Linked DNA regions of Homo sapiens. The protein of the gene in region 1 interacts with the protein of each later gene in a pairwise test. Each region holds a gene or a part of one and is shown in the gene's direction. Other genes may lie near its edges.

Region 1 (7,023 bases):
CCTTCTAAGGGAATGACAATAGAGCAAGCTCTAAGAGGGCATGTCAGGATGCTCTTTCTAGCTCTCAAGCAAGAAGTGAATAGAGAGTTAATTTCCTCACAACCATGTGTGAGGCTCAGCTGAGTGGCCCGCATGAAGAATGCTGCACAGCAGCCATAAACTCTAACCTTTTCAAAATTCCTCTTGGCCCCCTGAAGACCCGCCAGCTGGCTTGGCTTTGCTGAATTGCCTCATCCCGGGCCATTGAGGAGGCCCTCAGGAGTCCGAAGCCCAATCATAAACAAAGCTGGGGGAGGCAGCCCCAGCTCATCCCTCCAGGACTAGCTGCCCATTGAAAACTCGGCCTGACCTGCTGCTGCCATGCATATGAATGATGGGGTGCAGAGCCTCTGAGATTCGCTGCTTAGAGCCTCCACAGAACCCATGCAAAGGTTAGCCCTTGCCCTCGTGTGTTCCTAGTCCCTACCCTGCCAAAGCACAGCACAAGGTGGAAAGTAGGAAGTGATGGATGGATAGGTAGGAGATACTGGAATTTTCTGTCTGGTGCTGAAGAAAGTTGCAACTCCTCCATCCGCATTTATTTGCATGGCACTTCTTCCAAATCAGACATTTGCCTCTTTCCAGAATGCTGTCATCAATAAAGAGACTCAATGAGAGGCCCCCTACAGGAGCTGCGGATAAAGGCATCGCTGCAGGCTCAGATCAGTGTATTGACATCACCTAGTTATATTTCAGTGTGAGCCCCAGAGGACACTTCCTGACAGTAAACACCCAGTTTATCGAGTATTTCTGGTTGGTTGTGTTTTTTATGCTTAGAGTGTCTATTATCCTCCTCAAAAATCCTGCTTCCTTTTCTTCTTTTAAAATCTGAACATAACGAGTGAAATCAATTCTAATTGTCCAGCACTTTCATTCATTGCGTGAATGTGCATGAGCTCGTGCTTCGTGGGTCCATGGGTCTGGGTTGCAGTGCTCCCGGGACCCATCTGTGGTGCTGCCCTGGCAAATGGTGGCTGGTTAAAGCACAAGGACCCTTTTAATATGACTCCACCTAGAGGCATTAAGAGATAGGGTGGCTGTAATCCTCTTATGAGCTCCTGTTCCTGCTCCTGCTGCCATCCAAGCTCGCACCAGGATGCGAATGTGTGCCGCATTTAATCAGGATGCCTCCATGCGTCCCAAGAAAGCAGACGCAAGAGCTCAGGAGAGAAACAAGGCCATCCACACCACAAAGGAGCCAGAAGCCTTCCAAATGTCAATGCACTGCTGCATTTTTCCAAACTTGTTGCCGGAGCGGCCTTTAACATCCCCAACGGCCTGCTGTGATCCACCAGCTAAAAACATCGATTGTTAATTGTCCGACCACTACAGAGCAGCTCGTTTTAATATAGTCATGACATGAATGAGACCCAAGCTCCCCTTTGCCCCTCCCCTGAGGCACCTTGGATCTTGGAGGGAGAAGGGGGCACTTCGTTGGCTGTGGTACAATAGGGGCTAGTGTTGAGGTCAGCAACAAATAAGGGGTAACATTGTTTTCCCTGCTGGCAATCAGCAAGGCTTCCTTAAGGATTGAAATAACTTACATTTCTGGAGTGAGCAGCTGAGTAATTGAGAAAGAAGACTCTGTTCCTCTTTTCAAGAGAATCCCTCTCTCTCTCTCTCTCTCTCTCTCATACACACACACACACACACACACACACACACACACACACACTTCTCTGTACCTCCACCCCACTCCCCAATTCCTCAATTGCTGCTCTCACTCTAATAATTATGTAGAGCAAGCCAGCTGTGCCTCCCTAATTTATGAGGGCTTGAAACGTGCATGTGAAGAGTATGTTGCTTCAAGGGCCACTCCAGTAGCAACAAAAACCTCAAGAGCAGGGGGATTTGGGGCCAAACATTTAAATAACCCATGTGACAGAGGCCACAAAGAAAGGCATCTTCTTCTTAGTGCTACAGTTCTCTTTTACATACAGGCTCTGAAGATTGCTCAAAAAACTTCACAAGCCCCAACGGGACCATCGAATCTCCTGGGTTTCCTGAGAAGTATCCACACAACTTGGACTGCACCTTTACCATCCTGGCCAAACCCAAGATGGAGATCATCCTGCAGTTCCTGATCTTTGACCTGGAGCATGACCCTTTGCAGGTGGGAGAGGGGGACTGCAAGTACGATTGGCTGGACATCTGGGATGGCATTCCACATGGTGAGTGATGTCATGAGGCATTCCTCAGTAGCTTGGCCTTTGCCTGTTAATTGCTTTAGTGATGATAAAGAGGAAGAACAAAGACTTCAAAGCTCCTATGAGTTCTTATATGACCCATGGTGACTTTCTCTTCTTCCCCTTCACTAAGGATAGCTTGAGAGAAATTACAGGAAGGCTGTCTACTTTCTTGGAAATATTTCTTTAGAAAAGGATAGGAGACTAAATAGATACTTGGAAAGGATGAGAAAACTTAAAGTGTTCATTTCTACTCCAAATTGTCAGGATAGAAGGTGGCTCAGTGGCTAACCCCTGTGACAAAACAGAAGGACTCCAGAGCCAGACTGGCCGGGCTTAACTCCCGGCTCTGCTACTCCCCAGCTGTGCAACCTTAGACAAATCCCTTACCCTATCTGTGCCTTATCTGTGTTAAGTTAGCTGCTATCATCATCATTATTACTATAATTTTAAAATTGTCATTAATATAGTCATAAATATTGAAAAGGTACATCACCCAAGGCTAACAGCCACCAGTACTTCGCAGGTGAAGACCAACATGGATCTTGGGTCTAATTAGTATTGGAGAGGAACAAATCTTTCACTTTTGTAGTCATTGTAAGTTTTTTCTAATATAAAGGAGACTTGATGACTAAGCAAAAAGAGCAATTTCATTTCCTGGGTAAATCACAAGACTTAGTCAGAAAACTTGGGTTGTAGGCCCAGCTCTGCTATTTCCTAGCAGTAAGAATAAAGAAATCACATGCGCTCTCCAAACTTCAGTTTCTTCCTCTGTAGAACAGACATTGTAATGATACCTTTCCAGCTCATCTTCCAGGCCACTGAGAACAGAATGAAGCCAGTGAAAGTGGCCTGTACCTTTTTAATGAAAAAGTGAAAGTGCTTTTTGATGTGCAGGAAAAATATTAGCCATTGTTCTTGAAACATATCTTTGGTTTTTATGGCAAGATGTACAAAGTGTGCTCCACTGAATGAAATGCAATGAGGGGAAGGGAAAACGGAGTGAAAACCAAGTTTGACATTTTGATTTCCACTGACTTCTCTTTGTCTTGAATGTCCAGTTGGCCCCCTGATTGGCAAGTACTGTGGGACCAAAACACCCTCTGAACTTCGTTCATCGACGGGGATCCTCTCCCTGACCTTTCACACGGACATGGCGGTGGCCAAGGATGGCTTCTCTGCGCGTTACTACCTGGTCCACCAAGAGCCACTAGAGAGTGAGTTGGCCGATTGGGAACCTCTGTCCTGTCCTTCCGTCAGGGCTGTGAGGGTGTACAGGTGAAGGGGGGCTGAGCTCTTATGAGGGAGGAGATGGGAACTCTACGGAATTTATGGTGGCATCTGAGTTTAGAGGTGCCCACATCCTCTTGCCAGGAAGAGGTTGATGAGAAAAGAACACATTTCAATCTGGGTGCTTCTTTCTTTAAAAAATATATATATGTGTGTAACAAGAATTAGTTATTTTCAGGGAAAGTCATGGTACCATCTCATACCTCAGTTTCCTCATCTATGAATGAAAGAGAGGCTAGTTAGGATGATCTATACAGGGCCCCTCCTGTGCTAACATTTTTTTAGTCTGTGGCCATTTTTTTCCCTCTCAAAATCTCAGGGGCAATTGTCACAAAAGTGAACCATTTTAAACCTCTCTTTCTCTGGATTTTTTGACATTAACCATCTCTGGGCCTGGGTAATGTTTTCCTGACTAGATTGGTACAACTGCTTAGACTTGGACTTCACCCTTCCACCAAAGATAGTTTGTGGAGCTTCTAGTATGTGCCAGGCACCAAGCAAGGAATTAAAAACTATCACTCTGATCACAGCTGCTGTGGGACCTGCAGTCCCTCAGCACTGAGCAACATCTTCAAATCAGCTGCTCTTGGACATGTGTTTCAAATATGCTGCCATTTCTACTTAAAAACCCAAACGATAACTTTTTTTTTTTTTTTTTTTTTTTTTTGAGACAGAGTCTCTCTCTGTTGCCCAGGCTGGAGTGCAGTGGCTCAATCTCACTCTTCCCAGTGCAACCTCCACCTCCCGGGTTTAAGCAATTCTCGTGTCTCAGCCTCCCGAGTAGCTGGAACTACAGGCATGCGCCACCATGCCCAGCTAATTTTTGTATTTTTAGCAGAGGTGGGGTTTCACCATGTTGGCTAGACTGGTCTCGAACTCCTGCCCTCAAGTGATCTGCCTGCCTTGGCCTCCCCAAATGCTGGGATTATAGGTGTGAGCCACCATGTCCAGCCCCACATAACTTTAAAGACTGAAGAAGCACTTTTAAGAAAGATTCAAGCTGTGGAAATCCTACCCTGATTGCAGACAACTCACCATATATATAACTACAGACACGGCAGCCTGGCCTGCAGGAAGGTTGCTGGGTTTTGCATTTGTTTTTTCATCAAAGAGCTTCTGAAGATTGAGTGACAAAGAAACAGTATGGCAAATTGCACCAGGTCCCGTGAATGGTCAGTGCAGTCACAGAGTAAAGAATAGGTTGATACCTGATAAGGATTGCTGGCCGATCTTAGACACATGCACACACACATATCGATCAGTGTTGATGGCATTCATAGAAGGACAGCAATGCAACTGACAGCACAGGGCCAGAGTAAGTGACTTCTGGGTCTATTTGTCCAGACAGGTGGTGCGGGGGAATAGAGAGTGACATGCATGTGCTCATGGAGAGATTTCCCAAAGACAAGTATTTATGCTTTGTAATGTCTGTCTTCTGTGCCAGAACTCACAAGACAGTTGAGTGAAAAAAGAAAGAAGCAAAAGTGCCTCCTGGGTGTTTATTAATAAAGCAGGCTTCCCACGATGTATGAGCTCACCCAAATCGCCACGAGTCTATCTCACATTTACCTGTATTGCAGTAATGGTGCATCTGGCATCTGTAGCCTGCAGCAATAACAGTTCTTGTGCTTTAGATTGTATTTTTAATCTGTATGATGATTCTCTTATTTATCCATAGCCTGATTTCTTTTAGGTCCCATTTAGTTTCTCTCAGACCCAGAGGGGTTGTCAAGCTCCATGACTTGATGTAGTTGTTTTTAAAATGTGAGCATATAATTAGGGTCTTTTAAATGAGGAAGTGCCTGCAAGGACTTGTCCCTAGAAGGGAGGCAGCATTTGGGGGATCCCGAGGTATGAGGTTGGAAGGCCTAACTGCATTTGACCGTCTGCTTTCCCCAGACTTTCAGTGCAATGTTCCTCTGGGCATGGAGTCTGGCCGGATTGCTAATGAACAGATCAGTGCCTCATCTACCTACTCTGATGGGAGGTGGACCCCTCAACAAAGCCGGCTCCATGGTGATGACAATGGCTGGACCCCCAACTTGGATTCCAACAAGGAGTATCTCCAGGTACTTGTGCAGATACCAGAGGATGTGAGAGTGTGTATGTATTGCTGGGGTAGGAGGGTAGCTCCTCAAATACAGTAGGCAGAGGACACAAAGAAAATAAACACAGCATACCTGAGAACTCCATTCATTCATTCATCCAAACAGATGTGTATGCCAGGCACTGGGTTACATGCTGGCATACACTGATCAGAGGGAGCCTGCCCCTGCCCTTGTGGGGATTACTGGGCCTGGGGAGAAGTTGTTTGGCCAGGATGCTGTTTGCCCTATCACTATAGATATCCAAGGAACATTATATAAGCTGTTTGGATCTTCCTCATTCTTGGCACAGGGAGGCATCAGGGACATGGGGGGCATTCTCCTAAGGGGAGGTTTGTTGAGGTGCTAGCTGCACATGACAGCTTCTCATGATCTTTGCTATTGGAGAGAGCCCTGCCAGGAAGGTTTTGCACAGAGCTATCAGAAGAACACATAGGAAAATGTCACTACCAGGAACAGAACTCAAGGTGCCCCAGATGCTCGGCAGCATCTCTTCAGACCATTGTTTGCTTTATTCTGAATAAACCTTGCAGCTCATGTTGAGTAATCTTCCCGCACTGCACACTGCTCCAATTCTCATCCCCTGGGAAGAAGTAAACAGGGGGAAAGCAAGCTACTAGTTCCACACCAGAGCAGTGACTGCTTTTATGACACACGTAAGACAGCCTTGTGACCCACTGACAAGCCTGTCCTAGCTCTGAGGCGACACAGTGACCTCTGCTCTAAGAAGGATATTGCAAAGCAGACAACAGGAAAGGGAGAAACACCACTTAGAAACTCCAGGGAGTCCACAGAGGTTCTAACAGTAAGCCCTGGGGCCATTTGTCATTGTCTCTTCTCTCTGCCTCTCCAAAAATCCATCTCCTCGCAGCCTGCAAAACTTCCAGAAAGTTCTGTATAACTGGCATCCCCTATCTTTGACCTTAATCATATACTTTCGCCTATTGCTATCCACCTGTTTCTCATACGTGTAGACAGCACTATGTACTACTTATTCAAATGTTTAGTAATGCTGAGCACATTGTAGGTCACCAATAAGTGCTTACTGAATTGAATTTAGCCAGTGTGTGCTAGCTACATTTTGGTCATATGGAGACTGCCATTAAGAAACACCATGGCCATCAAAGGAATGACATCCAGCAATTTCCAAATGGGTTTGGCATTGTGGGAGGGGAAGTACCTTAAAATGTTGGCCATCCTCCTCATAGAGCAAAAGGTCAGGACTCGGTGCATAAGCCTAATTGCTTGGGCAGACTCTACATGCCCTTTGACCCCTTAGTGACCTGAGCAACTAAATACACAATGGAGCGAGAGGGTGTGGGGAGGGGATGCCTCTATGAGTGTGACTTTTGGAACTAGGGCATTATAAGTGAGTTGGATTGAACTGGACAGGAGTAGAGTGG
Region 2 (7,023 bases), on another chromosome or scaffold:
GTGTATAATTATCCCAGAGGAGGGGAGAGCCCAGCCCCTGGTAATTGCAGGCCTGCTTTGAACTGATAAACGGTGAGTGATTCATGTTTTCTTTGGAGTTCACATGTGCTCAGCTCCCAGCCCCGGCCCCACTGCCACTGTGAGGAGCCTGTTTTCTGGCTCCCGGGTCTTCCTTGAGCTCTGAGGCGGGGGCGGGAGTGGGGACTCCTCCCCTGCTGTTCTTGGGGCGCTGTCCGGCAAAGGCAGCTGGCAGCCTGCTAGGAGCACCCTGCAGTTCCTGCTCTGGGATTCCAGCCAAAGCTCTTTGCTTCTGAGAGCCTCGGTTTCCCCACCTGAGCAGTGGGTGTGTGCTGTGCACACACTGGGCAGGGAGTGTGTGGGGAGTGAAACAGGAGTGAAGAAGCATGGGGGGCTGCCGCACCCAGACCTGGCTGGCCCTCCGCATACCCTTCATTCATTCGCTCACTCACGGGGATTTATTGAGTCTTCCTGGGTCCCTGGCTTGGCTTGGGGATGCAGTGGCAACCACCCAGAGCCAGGCCCTGCTCTCACAGGGCAGCCATTCTGGCCGGGAGAATGGGAGCAATAAGTAATAGAGACCCTTCACGAGTCCTGTGCTGCAGATGAGAACAGGGTGACTGAGCAGGGCGGGGAGTGGAGACAGGGGCACAGAGGCCTGGGGGAGGGGCAGGCAGCCCCACACTGCATGTGGGCACCAGGCACAGAGGCTGATGGGACTGTGCCCAGCTCCCTGGTAGACTTGGAGAAGGCATCCATCTTCAGGCCTCAGCTTCCCCATCTGTAAAATGGGGCCAGACCATACAAGGGGTGTCTGGGATGGTCTGTGCAAACTGGCTGGCTGAGGCTTGAACTCAAGACTCAGGACTCAGCCTTGCTGTAGCCGGCTCCAGCCAGGAGTGGGTGAGAGGCCCCAGCACATCAGGCACATCCAGGGCAGCAGGCCCTACTGACAACCAAGGGGGTGGCACTGCTGACTATGCCTTGTGGGCAGGTGTGCCCTTTCCTCTTTCATCCATGAGAAAAGAGCTTTCATGCCCCTTTTGCAAATGGGGAAACTGAGGCTAGGAAAAGGGAGTGTCCCCATCAGAGTCATCTGCCTACAGAGTAACAGGGTCTAGATTTAGCCCAGTGCTTGGCTGCCAGTTGCTAGGCAGGGTGTGGTGAGACTTTTCCAGAGGCAGTGGAGGCCAGGACAGGATATGGGGACTCCCGCCAGGATCTGGGCAGCGCTGACCTCGTGTGCAGGTCAGAAGAGTGGCCTTAGCCTCTGCATAGGGACCTGGCTGTAGGTGGTTGTGGGTGGAGGGAGCCGAGTACCCTGGCAATCCAGGAAGGAGGGGTGGGCATTTTGTGGAGTTTGGGGTGGAGTCAATGGACCTTGGTAGTGAGTGTGACCAGGAAGTGAGGGCCCGATGTGGAGCAAGGCAGGAGGGGGCCACACAGGTCTGGGTGGGTATGGGGTGCTGAGGCTGGGAAGGGGTCACTGTGGAGGGGTGGAGTGCAGGGAGCACCTGCCAGCCTTCCCTGTGGAGGAATTCCTCTTTCCTTGGAGTTGGGTGTGAGGCTGGGAGCAGGACTGGTGGCTTGGATAGAGTGCTGAGAGTCAGGGCTGGTGGGCCAGGGAGCCTGGGAAGGGGCCGTGTGGCGGGGCACCCGTCGGCTGGGGTGGGGATGTGGGTGGGACACATTGCCTGGCTTCTGGACTGCAGGTCTCAAGGTTTATCCAGCATGGGGCTTGGGGTCCCACCGAGAGCAGCCCAGGCTGCCACCTATCCACAGTGAGAACTGCTGCCTGTGTGGCCTGGGCCTCCATGTCCTCCGTGGTGCCTCTGCTGTGGGCTGTCAGGGCGTGTTCGGGGGAGAGGCAGGGCTGTGGAGGTGGGAGTGAGCACTAAAGCCCATCTATGTCAAGCTTCTGTAGGGGACGGTGGTGGAGTATGTCCCCACCAGCCTCAGGCAGGGAGCTGGTGCCCACCCTGGGAGTACAGAGCTGTGGGGAGGGTCCTGCTCCCCAGTGCATAGGGAGGCTCTGGGTGAAGGCTGCTCTCCAGGTTGGTGTCAGATGTTGGTGTCAGCTGGGGTCCCATTCCACACCTCAGGCCCTTGTCACCTGCCTTCCTGTTCCTGGCCTCCGCCAGTGATGGCAGGGCACAGGTGCCAACGGAGTGACCTCTTGCCAGGTGTCCTGGGGATACCTGGTGCACCCCACAGCTTATAGGGCCTCAGGCCAGGGAGGTGCCCAGTTTGCCCCTGGCTCCTCCTGGTGGGTCAGGTTCTGCCTCCTGGAGGTGCAGTGGGCACGCCCAGCACTGGAAGGGCTCACACTGGGAGATCATAATATCATGGGATGGGCCATGCCTGCATTCACATGCCCTCTTCTGCCCCTTCCCCAGGGCTGAAGCTCCTGGCACCATGATGCTCACCCCAGCAGGACCAGAGCACCGAGGCCCAAGGCCCCAGCCTGCCATGCCGCTGCCACCGCGGAGCCTGCAGGTGCTCCTGCTGCTGCTGCTGTTGCTGCTGCTGCTGCCGGGCATGTGGGCTGAGGCAGGCTTGCCCAGGGCAGGCGGGGGTTCACAGCCCCCCTTCCGCACCTTCTCGGCCAGCGACTGGGGCCTCACCCACCTAGTGGTGCATGAGCAGACAGGCGAGGTGTATGTGGGCGCAGTGAACCGCATCTATAAGCTGTCGGGGAACCTGACACTGCTGCGGGCCCACGTCACGGGCCCTGTGGAGGACAACGAGAAGTGCTACCCGCCGCCCAGCGTGCAGTCCTGCCCCCACGGCCTGGGCAGTACTGACAACGTCAACAAGCTGCTGCTGCTGGACTATGCCGCTAACCGCCTGCTGGCCTGTGGCAGCGCCTCCCAGGGCATCTGCCAGTTCCTGCGTCTGGACGATCTCTTCAAACTGGGTGAGCCACACCACCGTAAGGAGCACTACCTGTCCAGCGTGCAGGAGGCAGGCAGCATGGCGGGCGTGCTCATTGCCGGGCCACCGGGCCAGGGCCAGGCCAAGCTCTTCGTGGGCACACCCATCGATGGCAAGTCCGAGTACTTCCCCACACTGTCCAGCCGTCGGCTCATGGCCAACGAGGAGGATGCCGACATGTTCGGCTTCGTGTACCAGGATGAGTTTGTGTCATCACAGCTCAAGATCCCTTCGGACACGCTGTCCAAGTTCCCGGCCTTTGACATCTACTATGTGTACAGCTTCCGCAGCGAGCAGTTTGTCTACTACCTCACGCTGCAGCTAGACACACAGCTGACCTCGCCTGATGCCGCCGGCGAGCACTTCTTCACGTCCAAGATCGTGCGGCTCTGTGTGGACGACCCCAAATTCTACTCGTACGTTGAGTTCCCCATTGGCTGCGAGCAGGCGGGTGTGGAGTACCGCCTGGTGCAGGATGCCTACCTGAGCCGGCCCGGCCGTGCCCTGGCCCACCAGCTGGGCCTGGCTGAGGACGAGGACGTGCTGTTCACTGTGTTCGCCCAGGGCCAGAAGAACCGCGTGAAGCCACCAAAGGAGTCAGCACTGTGCCTGTTCACGCTCAGGGCCATCAAGGAGAAGATTAAGGAGCGCATCCAGTCCTGCTACCGTGGTGAGGGCAAGCTCTCCCTGCCGTGGCTGCTCAACAAGGAGCTGGGCTGCATCAACTCGGTGAGTTGGGCAGGGGCGCCCCTCCTCCCGCGGCCCCATCCCCTCCAGGGACGACGGCATCGGTGTCAGATGCACGCCCAGTGGTGCCTGCTGTGTGCCTGGCCTGGCTTTTGGCTTGGCCATCCCCATGGCTCAGCTAGGTGGGGCTGCCCTTTTCCATCCCCCAGAGAGTGGGTTTGGACCCAGGGTGCTAGCCCCAAAGGCTGCTCCCAGCCATGATGCTGTCTTGTGCCTCAGAAGATGGGGTGACGAGGCCCTGCTGGCATAGTCCACAGCCCCTGTGGGACACTGGACAGAGTGCCAGCCACATGCCTGGTCCTACACCTGGTGCTTGCCTGCTCCATCTTGTCCCCATCCTACAAATGAGGTTATAGGATCAGAGAGGTGGGGTAACTTGCCCTGGGTCACACAGCAAGTGAGAGGCTGGTGCCAGAGCCTATCAGGTGAGCCCAGACACCATTTCCATGGAGCGCTTGTGTCCCCCACATGACCCTGGTGGCACCTGCCCGCTGGGCCTCTGCTTTTGCCCAGCAATGGGAGCTGATGGTGTCCTGGTGCAGGCCACAGTTAACAACTTGCAGAGAAAGTGACCCTGACTGCAGGGAGCCACAGCCCCCAGCACCCATCAGAAGGCACAGCTGGGGTGGGGCCTCTATCTCGCTGCCTTTCAGGGAGTGTCTTGTTCACACTCCTGGGCAGGCTCAGAGGGCACGGGCCTTGCTTAGGGTGGAAAGTGAAGGGGCTGGGACTCGGCCCAGACCTGGGACCCCCGAGGCCAGGCCTTCTGGGCTTGCTGCTGGGGGTCGCTGGCCATCGCAGGGGAAGGCCTCGCCCTCTCTGGCTGTAGTCTCCCATGTCTGACCTGAGGGTGTTGCTGGTTTTGTCCTCAGGGCAGAGTGGGACTGCAAGGGCCCCTCAGTCCTTCCGTCTCACGCTCACTGCCTGTGTGAGGCAGGGCCCATGTGTGCTTGGCAGATGCGGTTGTCCACCCTCCCCTTGGCTTTTCAAGGAACGTGTTTTCTCTGCACCATACAGATGGAGACACTGAGGCTTGTAGGGGCAGAGCCTGGGTGAAGCCCCACCACACTCTCTCTTTGTGCCCTGCCCCAAGGCTGGGGCCTGCTCTTTCATCCCTGGGGACAGTCCCCACTGCCCCCTCCCACCTGTTCATTCCATGTGGCCTAGCCCTGGCCCAGCCTCCCCTGCTCCTTCCTCCTGAGCAGCCTGGCCCCTGCCAATGAACCCTCTGCAGACAAGGACCATCTGCCCCACTTCTCCCCACATCCCTTCCCTGCCTGCCCTGCCCTCTCCTTAGGCCTGGCGGTGGAGCAGCGCCCCCTCCACACTGGCCCCCAGCTGCTCCGGAACCTCAAGCTATTGATTGCTTTCTCGTGCTCTTAGCTGGGAGCCCGCCCTCTGCCTTTCAGGTGTGATCTGCTCCCTCCTGTCTTAAACCCTCTCTGTCTGCACCTCTCCTCTGGGGGCTACCCCCAACCTCTCTAGAAAGACAACTGCACTCCCAGCCCTGCCCAGGGAGGCCCAGTCCTCCGGGAGAAGGTGCCCGGGGAGTGGCTCTCACCCTGCCCCTTCCCACAGCCCCTGCAGATCGATGACGACTTCTGCGGGCAGGACTTCAACCAGCCCCTGGGGGGCACAGTCACCATTGAGGGGACGCCCCTGTTCGTGGACAAGGATGATGGCCTGACCGCCGTGGCTGCCTATGACTATCGGGGCCGCACTGTGGTATTCGCCGGCACGCGAAGTGGCCGCATCCGCAAGGTCAGGCCTGGGTGGGGTGGGGTGAGGAGGGGGCTTGGGGCAGGAACAAAGGCTTGCGGCCGTCCCAGGTGGCAGGCCCAGTGCTGCTGTATGCTGTGGGAGGCTAGATCTGGCGTACAGGGGGCAGGGGGAATGTTGCCCTACACTAGGCCCAGTGACCTTGAAGGGCCCCACTCCCCTCTGTGCCTCTGCCCATGACTGGCCCCAGGCCCACTAAGCAAGGACACTTTGAGACCACGCAGGAGCCTGTGCAGGGGCCCAGGGATGCTGAGGCGGGGGCTGGCTCTCCAAGGGCACTTGACCTCCTGGGGAGGCTGCTGTGTGTGGGTGGTGAGGGCAGGCCTGCGCGGCCCCCTCCCCTCTGGGCCCTGCTCCCCAGCCAGGAGATCCAGTGTCTGCTGCCTCAGCACTCTGCCGGGCCAGAGGCCTTGGCCCTGCCTCTCCCCAGCCCCTCTACTGGGCCAAGGGCAGGGCAAGGGTAGTGCCCCTGCCTGTCTTTGGCTGGTGCTTGAGGAGCTCCAGCACACAGCCCTGGGCTGGCCCCACGGTGGCAGGGGGAGGGCTAGGTGCTACAGGGATGGCTGTCTGGTCTTCAGGGTTCTCCTTTCCTTCCCCAGAACAGTGGGCTGGACAGAGGCAGTGCAGAGCTTCCTGGAGGGTGTGGGTGGAGGGGAGCTGCCTGGGCTGGGGTGGGCACCAGGCTGGCCTGGTGTGGAGGAAGCTCCCGGAGAGACTGAAGGGTGGGGATACTTGGACACCCCAGAGGCCCAGTGGGCAGTGGTGGGTCCTGGGGTGCATAACCGGCACCAGAGGCTGGTGCCGATGCAGCTCCCCTGAGCCCATGTGTGCCCGCGAGTGGGGCTGGGCCGGGGGCTGGCCAGGGCTTGCAGCTCTCAGCCCGGTGCCCAGTGTTAGGAAGGGGGCCTCCCATCTCTGCCATGGTAGTTGCCCTGGGAGTGGTGGGGAGTCCTGCCCCTCCCTGGCTCTGTGATCTCTGGGAGGGGATCCCCTGCAGCCTCAGCTTCCCTCTGTGAAATAAGCCAGATGTTCAGGCTCTGGGCTGGGGGCGGGGGGTGCTGGTGGTCTTGGGGCCCGTGGGGGCCCAGCTGCTGATTGTAGGCCCCCCAGGGTGGGGGTGCCCTGGGGTCCTGCTGGTTCTGCTCATAGTGGCTATGAGGCTGAAGCTGATGGGGAAAGTCCTGTGACCCCTGAGTTGGGTCCTCTGCTGTGACTTCCCTCTTGGCCCCCATGTGGGGTACCGCCCTGTGGCTCTGGTGCGAGGCCCCTCCCGTCCTCTCAGCCTGCACTCCCTCTCCTCACACTGGAAGGCACACAGGGCTCTCGAGCGCATGGGGTGGGTGTTGGAGTGGGTTTTGCCAGACAGAGGACCGTGCTTGTGTGGAAGCCCAGTGCAGCAGCTTAGAGACATTTTGTGGGGCGCCCCAGAGCCTGTTACCCAGCCAGTGACCAGGTTCCTCTAGCCCTACCCTGTTCCTGCTGCCCAGCACTCACCCTCTTGTGCCCCAGGGGCACCGTTTGGGTCAGAGCTTTGCTGAGGGAGCA
Region 3 (7,023 bases), on another chromosome or scaffold:
TCAGCCCCTGGGGGCCATGGGCAGGTTCTGGCTCCATATCTTCCCCTGGCTCCACAGGGTCGCCTCTCCATGAGGAGCCCTCCCCTCCCAGCCCCCAAAATGGACCTGGAACCGCTGTCCCTGCCCCCACTGACTTCAGACCCTCAGCCACACCTGAGGACCTCTTGGCCTCCCCGCTGTCACCCTCAGAGGTAGCAGCAGTGCCCCCTGCAGACCCTGGCCCCGAGGCTCTTCATCCCACAGTGCCCCTGGACCTGCCCCCTGCCACTGTTCCTGCCACCACTTTCCCAGGGGCCATGGGCTCCGTGAAGCCCGCCCTGGACTGGCTCACGAGAGAAGGCGGCGAGCTGCCCGAGGCGGACGAGTGGACGGGGGGTGACGCACCCGCCTTCTCCACTTCCACCCTCCTCTCAGGTGATGGAGACTCAGCAGAGCTTGAGGGCCCTCCCGCCCCCCTCATCCTCCCGTCCAGCCTCGACTACCAGTATGACACCCCCGGGCTCTGGGAGCTGGTGAGGCCCAGCCCAGGAAGGAGGCCTCAGGGGAGGGGATGTGGGGAAGATGCTACCCCTAGCTTGCCTTGTGATTCTGCACTGGGAGGAGGTGAGGGGCAGGGTGGAGTCTGCAGCCCCACACCGGCCTTGCCTCTGGAATCTGGCAAGGCAGAGGGCTGAGCTGGGCAGGGTGGGCTCCATAGACTGCCTTGCCCTTGGTGCCTGCAGGAAGAGGCGACCTTGGGGGCAAGCTCCTGCCCCTGTGTGGAGAGCGTTCAGGGCTCCACGTTGATGCCGGTCCATGTGGAGCGGGAAATCCGGCTGCTAGGCAGGAACCTGCACCTTTTCCAGGTCAGTGTGTCCTGCCTGCCGCTGTCCTTGCAGCCTCCTTAGCTGTTGAGAAACTCTGCACAAGCCCTGGGGAGCAGGAGGAGGGCAGAGTCCGAGGGCTCAACTCCAACCCAGAAGCTGTGCTGGGGGATCTGTTGGGTGACCTGCAGGACTCCCTGGGCCCAGCTCCTGAAGCTGCCCAACAGCTGTGTTCTCTGCCCTCAGGATGGCCCAGGAGACAATGAGTGTGTGATGGAGCTGGAGGGCCTCGAGGTGGTGGTTGAGGCCCGGGTCGAGTGTGAGCCACCTCCAGATACCCAGTGCCATGTCACCTGCCAGCAGCACCAGGTGCACACCATGAGCGCCTGGGTGGGCACGGGTGCACTGCACTGGCCACAGGCTGGCTGCCAACTGTAGCTGGCTGCACCACACTTTCCAGAGCCACGCTCTGACCGTGTCGCCCTGAGGGAGTCTCCACACCCATTTCTGACCTCTGACCATGTGCCCCGTGGAGTCCTTGCATCCCAGCTCTGAACTCTAACTTGAGACCCCATGGGGTCCCCATACTCCATTTCTGGCTCTGCCCTCCAACTTGTGGCCCCATGGGGTCCCTCTGACCCTATGCTCCTAACTGGTCGTTTTAGTCCTTTCTCTGACTAACCCCTCCCCAGGCCTGACACTTCCCCCAGTGCTTGACTCTGAACCCACTCCCATTTCTCCAGCTCAGCTATGAGGCTCTGCAGCCGGAGCTCCGTGTGGGGCTGTTTCTGCGTCGGGCCGGCCGTCTGCGTGTGGACAGTGCTGAGGGGCTGCATGGTGAGCCACCTGCGGGCTGCTGGGCTGGCGGTGGTAGCAGGGCTCTCCCAGGCCTGCCTCTCACGTGTGTCTCTGCCACCCCCAGTGGTACTGTATGACTGTTCCGTGGGACATGGAGACTGCAGCCGCTGCCAAACTGCCATGCCCCAGTATGGCTGTGTGTGGTGTGAGGGGGAGCGTCCACGTTGTGTGACCCGGGAGGCCTGTGGTGAGGCTGAGGCTGTGGCCACCCAGTGCCCAGCGCCCCTCATCCACTCGGTTTGTTGAAAGGCTGGCCATCCCTTCCTCAGTGCTGCCCTTAGAGGGAGGGTGTGGGGGCCCAAAGGTGGGAGGTTGGGGCTGCCTTTCCAGTTGAGTAGAGGTGAGCAGTCCTTGTCCTGGAACAGGTGGAGCCACTGACTGGGCCTGTAGACGGAGGCACCCGTGTCACCATCAGGGGCTCCAACCTGGGCCAGCATGTGCAGGATGTGCTGGGCATGGTCACGGTGGCTGGAGTGCCCTGTGCTGTGGATGCCCAGGAGTACGAGGTCTCCAGCAGGTAAGCTGGCTGCACCCAGCAGGAGCACGGCGCAGCCTGGGGCCTCCGCGGTTGGCGTTGCTGCTTGGGGCCTCCCACCCACCGCTCATCTGCCCCCCTCTCTCCCTGTTCCTTGATCCTGGCCACAATGCCCGAGTGCCAGCGTTGCCACTGAAGACCCTGAGCACCCACCACACCTGTAGGTTCCTGGCCTGGGCTGCTGGGGAATCCTTCCTGGGCCCGTCACTGCCCAGAACTGACTCGTGGCTCTGCTTCCTGCTCTGCTCACCTGGTCTTCTGAGGGACTGTGGATATATTAATAGCTGTGGCAGCAGGACCCTCAGATCAGACAGATAAGCTCAGGGGCTGGCCTTCTCACCAGCTCACTCTTCCCCAGGCATTGTCCTGGGCTGCCAGGCTCTTCAGGAAGGTAGACTTGGAAGGCACACCTCAGAAAGGCACACTGGCCGAGGGCCAGGCTCCACTGTCGTCTCTAGGGACCCCTGCTGCCTTCCTGGGGCTCCTGGGTTATGGTAACCTGGCCAGCGGTTGCAGGCCCCAAAGGTACACACGCAGGACATTCCTAAGGAGATGTCCATAAGCAGCAGGGCCCAAACGTGGCTGAATATCAGGGTAACCTGCAGATCCTGTCCCAAACCAACACAAACATCTGGATTCAGGAGGCCCACGGTGGGGCCCCCAAATCTGTATTTGAAACAAGGAACCACTCTCCTGGAGCACGGAGTGTCCCCTGAATGTGTTATGACCGAGAACTTACGGTGACTATCTAGACTGTTAGTGTTCCAGACCATAAGACTGCTGTGATTTATGAAGCAATTAGCATATATTCTGTCTGGAGCCTCCCCTGGGTGGCTCACACGTCACTTGTGTCTTCCTAGTGTTTGCAACAACTGTGACAATGTCACTGAGTTGAGCCACTGCAGGCTTAACACTCTGGAAGTTTAATTTGCCCAAGCTTCTATTTTCTGGCTAAGAACCAGCATTTTCTTAGATGGTTCACTTTCCCTTCACCTGTATTTCCCTGTCTGACTAGAGGCTTTCAGGGACTCTTTTTCCTGAATAAATCAAGTTTCTACCATGCTTTGAGTGGGTACTGTGCATGTGACGTGGCGGAGGACATGGGCGGCTAGCTGTGCCCACTCACTTGCTCAGCAGCTCGCCCCACAACCAGGCTGACAGGGCCCCTTTGTAAATTTATGCCACAGATAAATTCTTCCTTATTGGGGGCCCCTGGGGTTGAACTTAAATGATTGAAGCCACAAATATTAATTCTCAGATACCAAGGCCTTCTGATGTGTCATAAAGAATTCCCTCCAAAGTGAGAGAGGGTCTCTGTCAATCTTATGGAGCATGGGAAGGGGAAGACCACCTGACAGTAGGGCAGGGAGAGGGGCTGCCAGGTAAGCTTGAGGGGCCCTTGATGCAGCCTGGCACCCCCTAGCCTGCCCTGTGCCTACAGCCTCGTGTGCATCACCGGGGCCAGTGGGGAGGAGGTGGCCGGCGCCACAGCGGTGGAGGTGCCGGGAAGAGGACGTGGTGTCTCAGAACACGACTTTGCCTACCAGGTACCTGACTGCTGAGCCACCCCCAGCTGCCAGCGGGCCAACCTCTCTGGTGGCTCCTCTCAACCCATCTGGTTATTCCTTGGTGGGGCTCCCAGTCCTGGGCCAGCCTGTCTCTCAGGCTGTCCCTGCCTCCATGTGTCTGGTCTGATGCTCATCTCTCTCCCTGTCTGTCCCACAGGATCCGAAGGTCCATTCCATCTTCCCGGCCCGCGGCCCCAGAGCTGGGGGCACCCGTCTCACCCTGAATGGCTCCAAGCTCCTGACTGGGCGGCTGGAGGACATCCGAGTGGTGGTTGGAGACCAGCCTTGTCACTTGTGAGGGCCACTTCCTCATCCTGCAAAAATCCATCTGCTCCAGGGGAAAGATGGAGGGGTCTGAGATCCTGGGGAGAGCAGAAAGGGGAAGAGGGCCAGTCTGCTCCTTCAGAGAGTGGCCAGACCCTCCCTAGCCAGCTGTGGTGGGAGTGCACCTCCAGGGACACCTGGTGGAGACTGCAGTCAGCGCTTGAGGGAAGCCAGTTGGGGCCTGAGTGGTCCAAGTTTTCCCTGCCTGCGCCCCTGCATTCATTCCCACCTCCCCTCCCAGGCTGCCGGAGCAGCAGTCAGAACAACTGCGGTGTGAGACCAGCCCACGCCCCACGCCTGCCACGCTCCCTGTGGCTGTGTGGTTTGGGGCCACGGAGCGGAGGCTTCAACGCGGACAGTTCAAGTATACCTTGGACCCCAACATCACCTCTGCTGGCCCCACCAAGAGCTTCCTCAGGTGTTGGGCCAGGGGTGTGGCTGCATGGCAGGTGGCAGGGAGGTCTTTGCAGCTCCACTATGTGGGGGTTTGTAGGGCTTTATGTTGAGGCACTGAGAATCCCATGCTGCTAGTAGGGGCAAGGGGTCGTGTGGTTTGGGGCTGGGGCTGAGCTGACCTAGCCGGGACTGGGCTGTGCTTTAGGTCCAGGTAACATAAGCCATCTTACGTTACGTAAGCTCACGGTCTGTTTCAGTGGAGGACGTGAGATATGCGTCCGTGGCCAGAATCTGGACGTGGTACAGACGCCAAGAATCCGGGTGACCGTGGTCTCGAGAATGCTGCAGCCCAGCCAGGGGCTTGGACGGAGGCGTCGCGTGGTCCCGGAGACGGCATGTTCCCTTGGACCCTCCTGCAGTAGCCAGCAAGTAGGACACCCTTGGGTACCCCCACACTCTCCCCTTGCCCCATACCACACCCTGGGGACAGCCAGAGCAGGTGCCAGAGGAGGCTCTTCCCATCTTTGCTTGGCCCCTCGTCAACCTGCCTGTCTTCCTTCCAGTTTGAGGAGCCGTGCCATGTCAACTCCTCCCAGCTCATCACGTGCCGCACACCTGCCCTCCCAGGCCTGCCTGAGGACCCCTGGGTCCGGGTGGAATTTATCCTTGACAACCTGGTCTTTGACTTTGCAACACTGAACCCCACACCTTTCTCCTATGAGGCCGACCCCACCCTGCAGCCACTCAACCCTGAGGACCCCACCATGCCATTCCGGCACAAGCCTGGGAGTGTGTTCTCCGTGGAGGTACAGCTCCTACTTGGACCTGGCAGGGCCCCGAGACCCTTCCCTTGGCTGGACAGCACTGCTGTGTGTGGCGGAGAGGCCGAGACAGTAGAGCAAGGGCCGGTGGATGGACATGGCTCCTCATCCTTGCTGTGGTGGGGGCAGAGGGGGCTGGTGGGGGGTGCCTAGCCTAGCATCTGGCACGAGCTGGACTGCTTGGCTGGTGGCCCGGGTCCTGATGCACTCCATGGCAGGCTCTGGAATGACTGCATTTGTATGTTCGGCCTGTGCAGTAGCTGGGTGGTGTGGTCCACATAGGCCATCGGGCTGACCCCCGTTGGCAGCCTGGCTCACATGGACATGCGCTAGGCATGTGTCTTGGACATACACAGTGGGCAGCAGATGGGCATGCGGGCAGACCACAGGTTGATACAGCATCATCACCCCCCTGGTGAGTCATCAGACACAGATTGGGGGCTCCAGCTTTGTTAGGTAGCTGGGCAGGATTTGGGAGGCAGCTTTATGTTCTCCAGATTTTTCGTTCTGGAGAAGAAAGATAGGAAAGGGCAACAAAGGGTGATGAGGAGCAGCTTGGAGGACACCGTGTGACTGGCCTGCACTCGGGAAGGGTGCTGAGAGGCTGTCAGCTTTGCTGCTGCGGCTGGGTCTCAGGGTCCTTCCCACATTTGGGGAGGACAGGATCTGAGGGAAGGGTCCTGAGTGACTGATCGGTGACCCTCTGTTCCAGGGGGAGAACCTGGACCTTGCAATGTCCAAGGAGGAGGTGGTGGCTATGATAGGGGATGGCCCCTGTGTGGTGAAGACGCTGACGCGGCACCACCTGTACTGCGAGCCCCCCGTGGAGCAGCCCCTGCCACGGCACCATGCCCTCCGAGAGGCACCTGACTCTTTGCCTGAGTTCACGGTCAGTGGGCAGGTCCCTGGCCGGGCTGGGCATTGACCTGGGCCAAACCCTTGCTCACAGGTGGCTCCTGACACAGGTGCAGATGGGGAACTTGCGCTTCTCCCTGGGTCACGTGCAGTATGACGGCGAGAGCCCTGGGGCTTTTCCTGTGGCAGCCCAGGTGGGCTTGGGGGTGGGCACCTCTCTTCTGGCTCTGGGTGTCATCATCATTGTCCTCATGTACAGGTGGGTGCAGCCAGATGTGGCTGGGCTGGGGCAGGTCGTGGGATCTGGCTGGACTGGGAAGGGACAGACCGGGCCAGGAGTCAGGAAACATTCTCTGTAAATGGCCAGAGAGTAAATATTTTCGCTTTGCAGGCCAAGTGGTCTCTGTTCAACAACTCAGCTTTGCCACTGTGGCACAAAGGCAGCCAGGGACGACATGGAAACACATGAAAGTGGCTGTGTTCTAACAAATCTTTATAAAAATAGGTTGTGGGATGGATTTGGCCTGGTTGTGGTTGGCTGATCTCTAGGCTAAACTGTGCTGGGCTAGACGGGGCATGGGTGTGTGTGACTTGCTTGGGACGGGACAGGCTGAATCGTACTGGGCTAGGCTTGAGCTTGGCTGGCATGGCTGCATTGGACTGTGCTGGATGAGGCCGGGGTGTGCCTGGGGATTGTCAGGCAGGCCTGGGCGAGTAGGACTCATCTGGCCATCCTCTCCTGACCCTGGGGCTGAGCAGGAGGAAGAGCAAGCAGGCCCTGAGGGACTATAAGAAGGTTCAGATCCAGCTGGAGAATCTGGAGAGCAGTGTGCGGGACCGCTGCAAGAAGGAATTCACAGGTG
Region 4 (7,023 bases), on another chromosome or scaffold:
TGCCCCTGCCTCACCCTTGAGGGCCCTGAGGTTGTGCCCTGTCCAGCAGCCACTCAGCACCCTTCTGCTGGACTCTACGCCTTGGGGTTGGGCCCAGACCCCCCATGGGGGCCTTGTCTGAGTGGAAGGCTGTATGGGGGGTGCCTGGTGAGCAGCAGCCAGACGAGCACTGGGGGAGGTAGCCCGCCCAGCTTGCCTCTTCCCCAGATATCAACAGGGTCTTTGTGGCTTCCTGAAGGCTGTGGCTGGAAAAAGAGGGAGGAGCTGGGGAGGGTCTGGCCGCTGTTCTTTCTAGAAGCTTTTCTTTGTCCAGTGGCCCCCAGCCCAGGTCCCCGTGTTCTTCCCAGGTTGGAAAGCTGCAGAGGGAGTGCCCAGCCACTGTCAGTCAGCAGCTCCTGCTCATCTCTGGCCCTTACACCCAGCAGGGGCAGCTGCGAGGGCCAGGGGTTGGGTGGGGCAGGAGGGTGGCAGCGTCCTGGGCTCCATGCACTTGGCCAAAGAGGACTTCTGAACCCGTCCATCCCAGTGCGGGTCTGAGAGTGGAACTTGAGGGAAAGGGACTGAGTCCCGGGAGCCCCTCTGCCCCCTGCCCTCCAGCCAGGCAGACTTCCTATCTGCATGTATGGGGTTTGTGTCTCTGCTTGTGTGTGTGTATTTGTGTGTGTGTAACCTCCAGTATTCCTGTTTGTCTGGGTGGGGTCATATATTTGGTTGCATGTGTGTGTGTGTTCGTGAACCAGCATGCACACACATATTGTCATGAGGCCACGTGGGTCTCCTCAGATGCCCCAACAGGGCCTGTGCTGGGAAGGGGTGGGGCTGAGGGTGGCTGCTGCAGTGGCTGGATGGGGACAGAGCCTCTGGCCAACCCAGGCTGTGCTTCAGTGGAGGGGGGTTCCCTGTGGCCCTGTCTCCCAGCCATCTGCGTCTGTGTTCATGACTTAGGAATGCCCAAGCCCTGGGGATCACAGAGGCCCCATTGTCCGCCCCCGGGCTTCCTGTGTCCCCCTCTGCCCTTTAACCCCTCGGGAGTGGGGCCCCTGGAGGGGGCCCGTGGGGCCTGGCAGTGTCTGAGCTGTTTCCAGGCACCCCCACCCCGCCCCCCGCAAACCAACACAGGCTAGGTATCCCAGGACTGCTGTGGGCCAGGGCCTCTCCCTGCCCCAGGCTGGGCTCCTTCCCTGCTCTCCTTTTCAGGCCACAGCCCCAGGAACTGGATGCAGTCTGTTCCTTCTGGCCTGGCCGCTGAAGCCCCCTCTAGTGCTAGGGTCATCCTAGCTCCCTGAGGAGGCCTGGGGCCTGAGAGGAGCCCTAGTTTTGCTGCCACCTCATTTCTCTCGCCTTCTAGGGGTCTCGGAGGCTGAAGCCTTGCCGCCTGCTGGGCATCAGTATCTCCTTCGACACAAGAATGGGGCCACTGCTGTCCCTAAATGCTGATTGGAGAGGGGCCTCTTTGGGAGGGGTTCTGGAGCCTCTGGTTGCAAGAAAGGTATCAGAACAAGTCCAGATTCCAGAGAGCAGAAGAGGGGACCAAGAAACCAGCCTGTCCCCAAGCCCAAAAGGGAAAGGAGTTGGCCTTCTCTTGGACTGAGTACCTGGATGGGGGACTTGGGGGTTTGTTTGGTGTCGGGCTTCAGCTCTGTGCTGAGACGTGATGTTGATCACATCCTACTTCCGCATGGCCTCCATCCCAAGATGTCACTCCCTGCCCCCGACATTTGCCTGCCATCTGCCTGGCAAGTAAGCCCTCCCCACGGGGCAGGATGGCTTGGAGGCCATCCTCGCCCAGGCCCCTGGTTCCCTGGGAAGCCCAGCAGGCACACATGTTGGGATGCCAGAGCCTCTGAGAGGCAGCTTAGGGAGCCACCACGCCCTCTAAAACCCCACCCCTGCTGAGACCCAGTGCCAGCTCTGTGATCTTGGACACAGTTTCCAGTTTTCTGAGCCTCCGTGTCCTCATCTGTAAAATGGGGATGATGATAGCACCTCCCTCCCTGAGGCAAATCTGGGGAGGAGATGAGTGGATGTGAGTGGAAGTGCTCATGAGGCTTTCTGGTACGTGGTAAGTCCACGCTGTAAGTTGATTTAATAGAACAGACCACAGAGGCATGTGATTGTGGGGATGGAGTGGGGCTCCTCCCTCCCTTCCCCAGTAGTCAAGACCGTCCTCCCTGAACCCCACAAAGGGTTAACCTCCGTCTCTTTTCCCCATCTTTTAAGGAGAATGGTCCATTACAGGTGAGTTGTAGTTGCCTTGGAGACTGAAGCCTCAGGCGAGATGAGGGGGCTGAGGGCTCACTCTCTCCTAAGGGTACCCTCTTAGGGAGGGGTGAGGTTGGGAGTGCAGGGACTAAGCAGCAGTCATAAAGGACTTCTGGGCCCCCAGGTACCTGTGGGGGCTCCCTGGAGCAGCCCCCTTTATGTGCTGTCTACATAACACATAACAAGGCTTTCCTCTGGCTTCCCCCACCTCTGGGACTTGGGCTGCATCACCATAGAAACCCGCCAGCCACGGCCTGGGGAGCGGGGCGGGGAGGGCCAGCGGGAGCCTTAAAGGGACACAGTGCACAGGGTGTAGGTGACACCCACACCATCGTATACACACCAACAGGCACAGAAGCCCCCCAGGCTCCCAGGCCTGCAAGCACATGGGCCCAGCACCACACTCTGACCCTTTCATGTGCCCTGTGCTGAGCCCCCAGCCCCACCCCCACTCTGGCCCACTGAGTCACCAGGCACCATGTCCCCAGGAGACAAGGGCAGGAGAAGCCGGATAGTCTCTGCTGTGCTGTTGAAGGGCTCTCTTGTTGCTTCTCCTTTGAGAGGAACTCCAGGCAGAACCTGAGAACTGACAGGCAGGTGTGCAGGGCACATGTGCAGGGCACCGCTGGAGGTTCCCTTCTCAAGGTGTGTGGTGGTGGTGGTGATGGGGTGTGTGTGTGTGTTTTCAGGGAGGAGGCAGTCACTCCAGGTCTAGCCAGGCTCCACAACCTCCCAGGTCCCTCCCTGGCAAGCTGCTTCCCATCAGACCAAAGCAGGCACTTTGGAGCAGAGGACAGAGGACTCCCTGAGGGACCTGCGGGTGTAGTGGGAGGCCAGGTGGGGTGGGATGGGGCAAGGCTCTTCTGGGGCTGAACCCCTCCCTGTAGGCTGCTGGGCGTGACCCTTGCCTCCCTGGCCCTTTCCCACCGGGGAGGATGGGTTTGGGACCGGACTTACTCAGGAATGGCCCCATCTTCAACTGCCCCAGCACAGCGGCCACTGTCCACTCAGTGCATGGTCACGCAGGCTCACTCTTGGCCTAACACATGTGCGTCTCCTCCAGCCAGGTGACCACTTACTCCCAGCCAGCAGCAATATTGGAAGGCTTCCCTGGGATTTTCTGGGTGCTTCCCCCTCCCCCCGTTCCTACCCGCAGCAGGAATCCCCCGACCCCCACCTGTTCCCTGGCATGGCATGGGTCAGCCAGCAGTGTGCCATTCATCCTGTCTCACGGCCGTCCCTTGCCCAGTGCCACAAGTGGGCAGGGCCTTGATGCTCTGTTGCGTGGGGCTTTGTAGGCCCCTCCGGCCCCAGCTCACAGCTGCTCCACCCTCTGTCTGTCTCTCTACCCTGCTCCCAGGCCAGCGTGACGTCCACGCCGGGAAGCCCCTCCACTGACCCAGGCCCATCTTCCCTCCTCCCCGCCCCTTGCCTGGCACAGCCCCCAGGGACAAGGACGCTGTGCAGGCGGCCTGCGCGCACGCGCACGTGCACACGCCCACCCCCACCCCTCACTCTTCTCGCTCTTTCTGCCATTTCTCAGCGGCGCACTCTGCAGCTGCCTCTCACCCTTTGTGCTCCGGTTTCCTCTTCTCTCCCTTTCTCTGCTGCCTGGGTCTCCGTTTCGGAATTTCCCCACCCCCTAACCATCTCCATCGTGGTTAGCGCTGTCTTCCTACGTCTGTCTTTGTCTCCTGCTCCCCCCTGCCTCTTCTCACTCTGTCTGTCACCCTTGGCAGACCCGGCCTTGGCTCCATCTGTGGAACACTCCCCCCTCCCCGCTCCTTTGCCCTTAGTGGTGCTGGTGGGGGGTAGAGGGCCTGCTGAGCTGACAACCCTAGCTGCTTGCTCTGTAATTGCCTGAGGAATGGTGAGAGATCAGAGACCCAGCAGCAGTGGGAGGAGAGGAGGGAGCGCCCCCTCCCAGCTGTTATATCTCGCAACCTTCTGGCTGCTTCCTGCCTGTCTCCGACTGCCCAGGGCGGTGGCAAGCTAGGTGGCAAATACTGGGAGACCAAAAAAGAAGTTGGATATGAGCCTGTGGGGAGATGGGATGGGGCTGGGATGGGGCAGGGAGCGGGGACCAGGGGTTTGGGGATATTGTATTTCCCCTGAGCGTACATGCCAAACACCATTCCAGGATTCTAGATTTGGAGGACAAATAGAGGAACTTGCGTGGCAGAAATTATCGACCTCCAGAGCACCCAAAAGCCTCTGACATGCAGGAGGGTCCTTCTTTGAGCTTTTCCTTGCTCCGGTTTCCTCCCCTCCCCCTCCTAAGACCAGTGCTCAGAGCTCCCAAGGCTGCTGTTTGATCATCTGCTCTCTGATCCGAGTCTCCTACTGCTCCTACAGGCCTTGAAGTTGAGGCCAGTGCTGCCTGGGGCCTCCCCTGATCCACTGGCTTTGTAGGGAGAGGCCGGGGTGGAACAGATCCACTGTTGCTCTTCCCTTCTGGGCCCAGGTCCAGCTCTTGCAGGCTGGGAATCACTCTTCTTACCCTCCAAGTCATCTCTTGGCCTCCAGGCCATGCACGCTGACCCACCCTGCTGCTTCTCCACCACCCTCTGCAGCAAGCTCTTGCCCAGAGTCCCCACGGGATCTGCCGCATTCACAGCTCTTCTTGGGTCACTCTGTTACACAAAACTGACAAGGCCCAGAGCCTTAGCACAGCATGGCTGACTTCTCTACCATCCTTTCGGTGTTCCTGCTGAGGCTCGGTGCCCGCTTTGATAAGGTCCTGGCTGGGCAGAGGGAGGATGCACAGTATGGATTTAATGAAGGCGTCTAGTCTGGGACTTCAGCCTCCAAGCTCTGTCACCTAACAACACCCTTTCTTGCCTTGCCTGCACTTTAACCACTTCCTGTTTGGAATTGAAGTGGTCTGGCCACTTGGGAGTCTGTTTCCTCTTGTCATTGTCAGAGGAGCCCCCTCTTTCAGACCCTTAGTCTTTGGCTCCCCTTACTTGTAGGTGAATATGGACATGGCCGGTGTGGCTTGGGTTTGGGGTGGACACATGCAGCAGTTGAGCTCTGAAGACTCAGACAAAGACCTAGAAATTGGGACTTTGAGACACACAAGAAGTGTTAGAAACACTGTCACGGAAAATGTCCCAGAGCTTGTCCTGACCCCTGTCCTGACCCTAACCTGGAGCATCTGGAAGGGAGGAGGCCTCAGTGGCCTCTCTTGACCCCCAGGGGGCTGAGGAGCAGCAGGGGGTTGTTTTCCTCCTTCCTCTCTTCTCCCACACCAGTTCTCAAGGGAAGGCTTCCTTCCCCATTCTTTCTCTCTTTTTTTTGAGATGGAGTTTCGCTCTTGTTGCCCAGGCTGGAGTGCAATGGTGCGATCTTGGCTCACTGCAACTTCCGCCTCCTGGGTTCAAGAGATTCTCCTGCCTCAGCCTCCCAAGTAGCTGGGATTACAGGAATGCACCACCACGCCAGGCTAACTTTTTTTTTTTTTTTGAGACAGAGTCTTGCTCTGTCACCCAGGCTGGAGTACAATGGCGCAATCTCCGCTCACCGCAACCTCTGCCTCCTGGGTTCAAGTGATTCTCCTGCCTCAGCCTCCTGAGTAGCTGGGATTACAGGCATGAGCCACCACGCCTGGCTTTTTTTTTTTTTTTTTTTTTTTTTTTTGTATTTTTAGTAGAGACAGGATTTCACCATGTTGGCCAGGCTGGTCTCAAACTGCTGACCTCATGATCCGCCTGCCTCAGCCTCCCAAAGTGCTGGGATTACAGGCGTGAGCCACCACGCCCAGCCCTAATTTTGTATTTTTACTAGAGACAGGGTTTCACCATGTTGGCCTGGCTGGTTTTGAACTCCTGACTTCAGGTGATCCACCCACCTCGGCCTCCCAAAGTGCTGGGATTACAGGCATGAGCCACTGTGCCTGGCCTTTTATTTTTATTTTTATTTATTTTTTTAGACAGAGTCTCACTCCATCACCCAGGCTGGGGGGCAGTGGCACGATCTTGGCTCACTGCAACCTCCGCCTCTCAGGCTCAAGTGATTCTCATGCCTCAGCCTCCCAAGTAGCTGGCATTACAGGCGCCCACCACCAAGGCTAATTTTTTTTCTTTTTGTATTTTTAGTAGAGACGGGGTTCCGCCATGTTGGCCAGGCTGGTCTCAAACTCCCAACCTCAAGAGATCCACCCACCTCAGCCTCCCAAACTACTGGGATTACAGGCGTGAGCCACCACGCCTGGCCCTTTCCCCATTCTTTCTTCATTTTCCTGAAACTATTTTGTGAAATGCTGCCATCTTGGGCCCCTTTCCTCCCTTCTCTATCCCACTTCCCAATCCCCCCATTAGCTTTTTAGGTCTGTACAGCACCCAGGCATCAGTTGGCTCTGAAAGCTATAGCAATGTGACTGCAAGAAGAATTCTTCTCTACATGTGTGTGCACACAGAGATAATAGATACAGGGATTCATCCCCACAGATACATAAAGACATACAAGAAGACACACGTAGCTAGCAGACTTGTGTGTTGATTCCCTCAGGCACACACACTAACACACCCACTCATGAGTGCAACCCCTCCCAGAGAAGACACACCACAGAAATACCAGCTCACATACAGCTCACTCCCTGCTTGCAGATCCACAACCACACACATGCCCACGGACACCTGCACATGCAGACACATACGGGGATGTGCATGCCATGCACAGGGGAGCTGATGGGGCAACAAGTTGGTGCTGGGAAGGCAGCTGGCAGGAAAGGTGCAGACAGAGAGTAGAGAGGGAATAAAA

What was found.
Region 2: the proteins of NRP2 (region 1) and PLXNA1 interact in a two-hybrid assay, tested with the Homo sapiens proteins (one study listed by BioGRID).
Region 3: the proteins of NRP2 (region 1) and PLXNB1 interact in a two-hybrid assay, tested with the Homo sapiens proteins (one study listed by BioGRID).
Region 4: the proteins of NRP2 (region 1) and L1CAM interact in a two-hybrid assay, tested with the Homo sapiens proteins (one study listed by BioGRID).

What each region holds. Positions count from the first base shown.
Region 1 is NC_000002.12:205,720,499-205,727,521, forward strand, and holds part of NRP2 (neuropilin-2 isoform 2 precursor), read left to right. Parts: intron 1-1,979; coding exon 1,980-2,210; intron 2,211-3,286; coding exon 3,287-3,442; intron 3,443-5,414; coding exon 5,415-5,584; intron 5,585-7,023.
Region 2 is NC_000003.12:126,986,107-126,993,129, forward strand, and holds part of PLXNA1 (plexin-A1 precursor), read left to right. Parts: intron 1-2,414; 5' UTR 2,415-2,487; coding exon 2,488-3,681; intron 3,682-5,277; coding exon 5,278-5,460; intron 5,461-7,023. UniProt on the Homo sapiens protein: Coreceptor for SEMA3A, SEMA3C, SEMA3F and SEMA6D. Necessary for signaling by class 3 semaphorins and subsequent remodeling of the cytoskeleton. Plays a role in axon guidance, invasive growth and cell migration.
Region 3 is NC_000003.12:48,413,066-48,420,088, reverse strand, and holds part of PLXNB1 (plexin-B1 precursor), read left to right. Parts: coding exon 1-512; intron 513-722; coding exon 723-845; intron 846-1,049; coding exon 1,050-1,172; intron 1,173-1,546; coding exon 1,547-1,640; intron 1,641-1,725; coding exon 1,726-1,898; intron 1,899-2,026; coding exon 2,027-2,178; intron 2,179-3,637; coding exon 3,638-3,743; intron 3,744-3,921; coding exon 3,922-4,058; intron 4,059-4,329; coding exon 4,330-4,506; intron 4,507-4,741; coding exon 4,742-4,913; intron 4,914-5,047; coding exon 5,048-5,290; intron 5,291-6,017; coding exon 6,018-6,194; intron 6,195-6,270; coding exon 6,271-6,419; intron 6,420-6,551; coding exon of another isoform or gene 6,552-6,702; exon of another isoform or gene 6,703-6,919; coding exon 6,920-7,020; intron 7,021-7,023. UniProt on the Homo sapiens protein: Receptor for SEMA4D. Plays a role in GABAergic synapse development. Mediates SEMA4A- and SEMA4D-dependent inhibitory synapse development. Plays a role in RHOA activation and subsequent changes of the actin cytoskeleton.
Region 4 is NC_000023.11:153,876,166-153,883,188, reverse strand, and holds part of L1CAM (neural cell adhesion molecule L1 isoform 1 precursor), read left to right. Parts: intron 1-2,470; exon of another isoform or gene 2,471-2,517; intron 2,518-7,023. UniProt on the Homo sapiens protein: Neural cell adhesion molecule involved in the dynamics of cell adhesion and in the generation of transmembrane signals at tyrosine kinase receptors.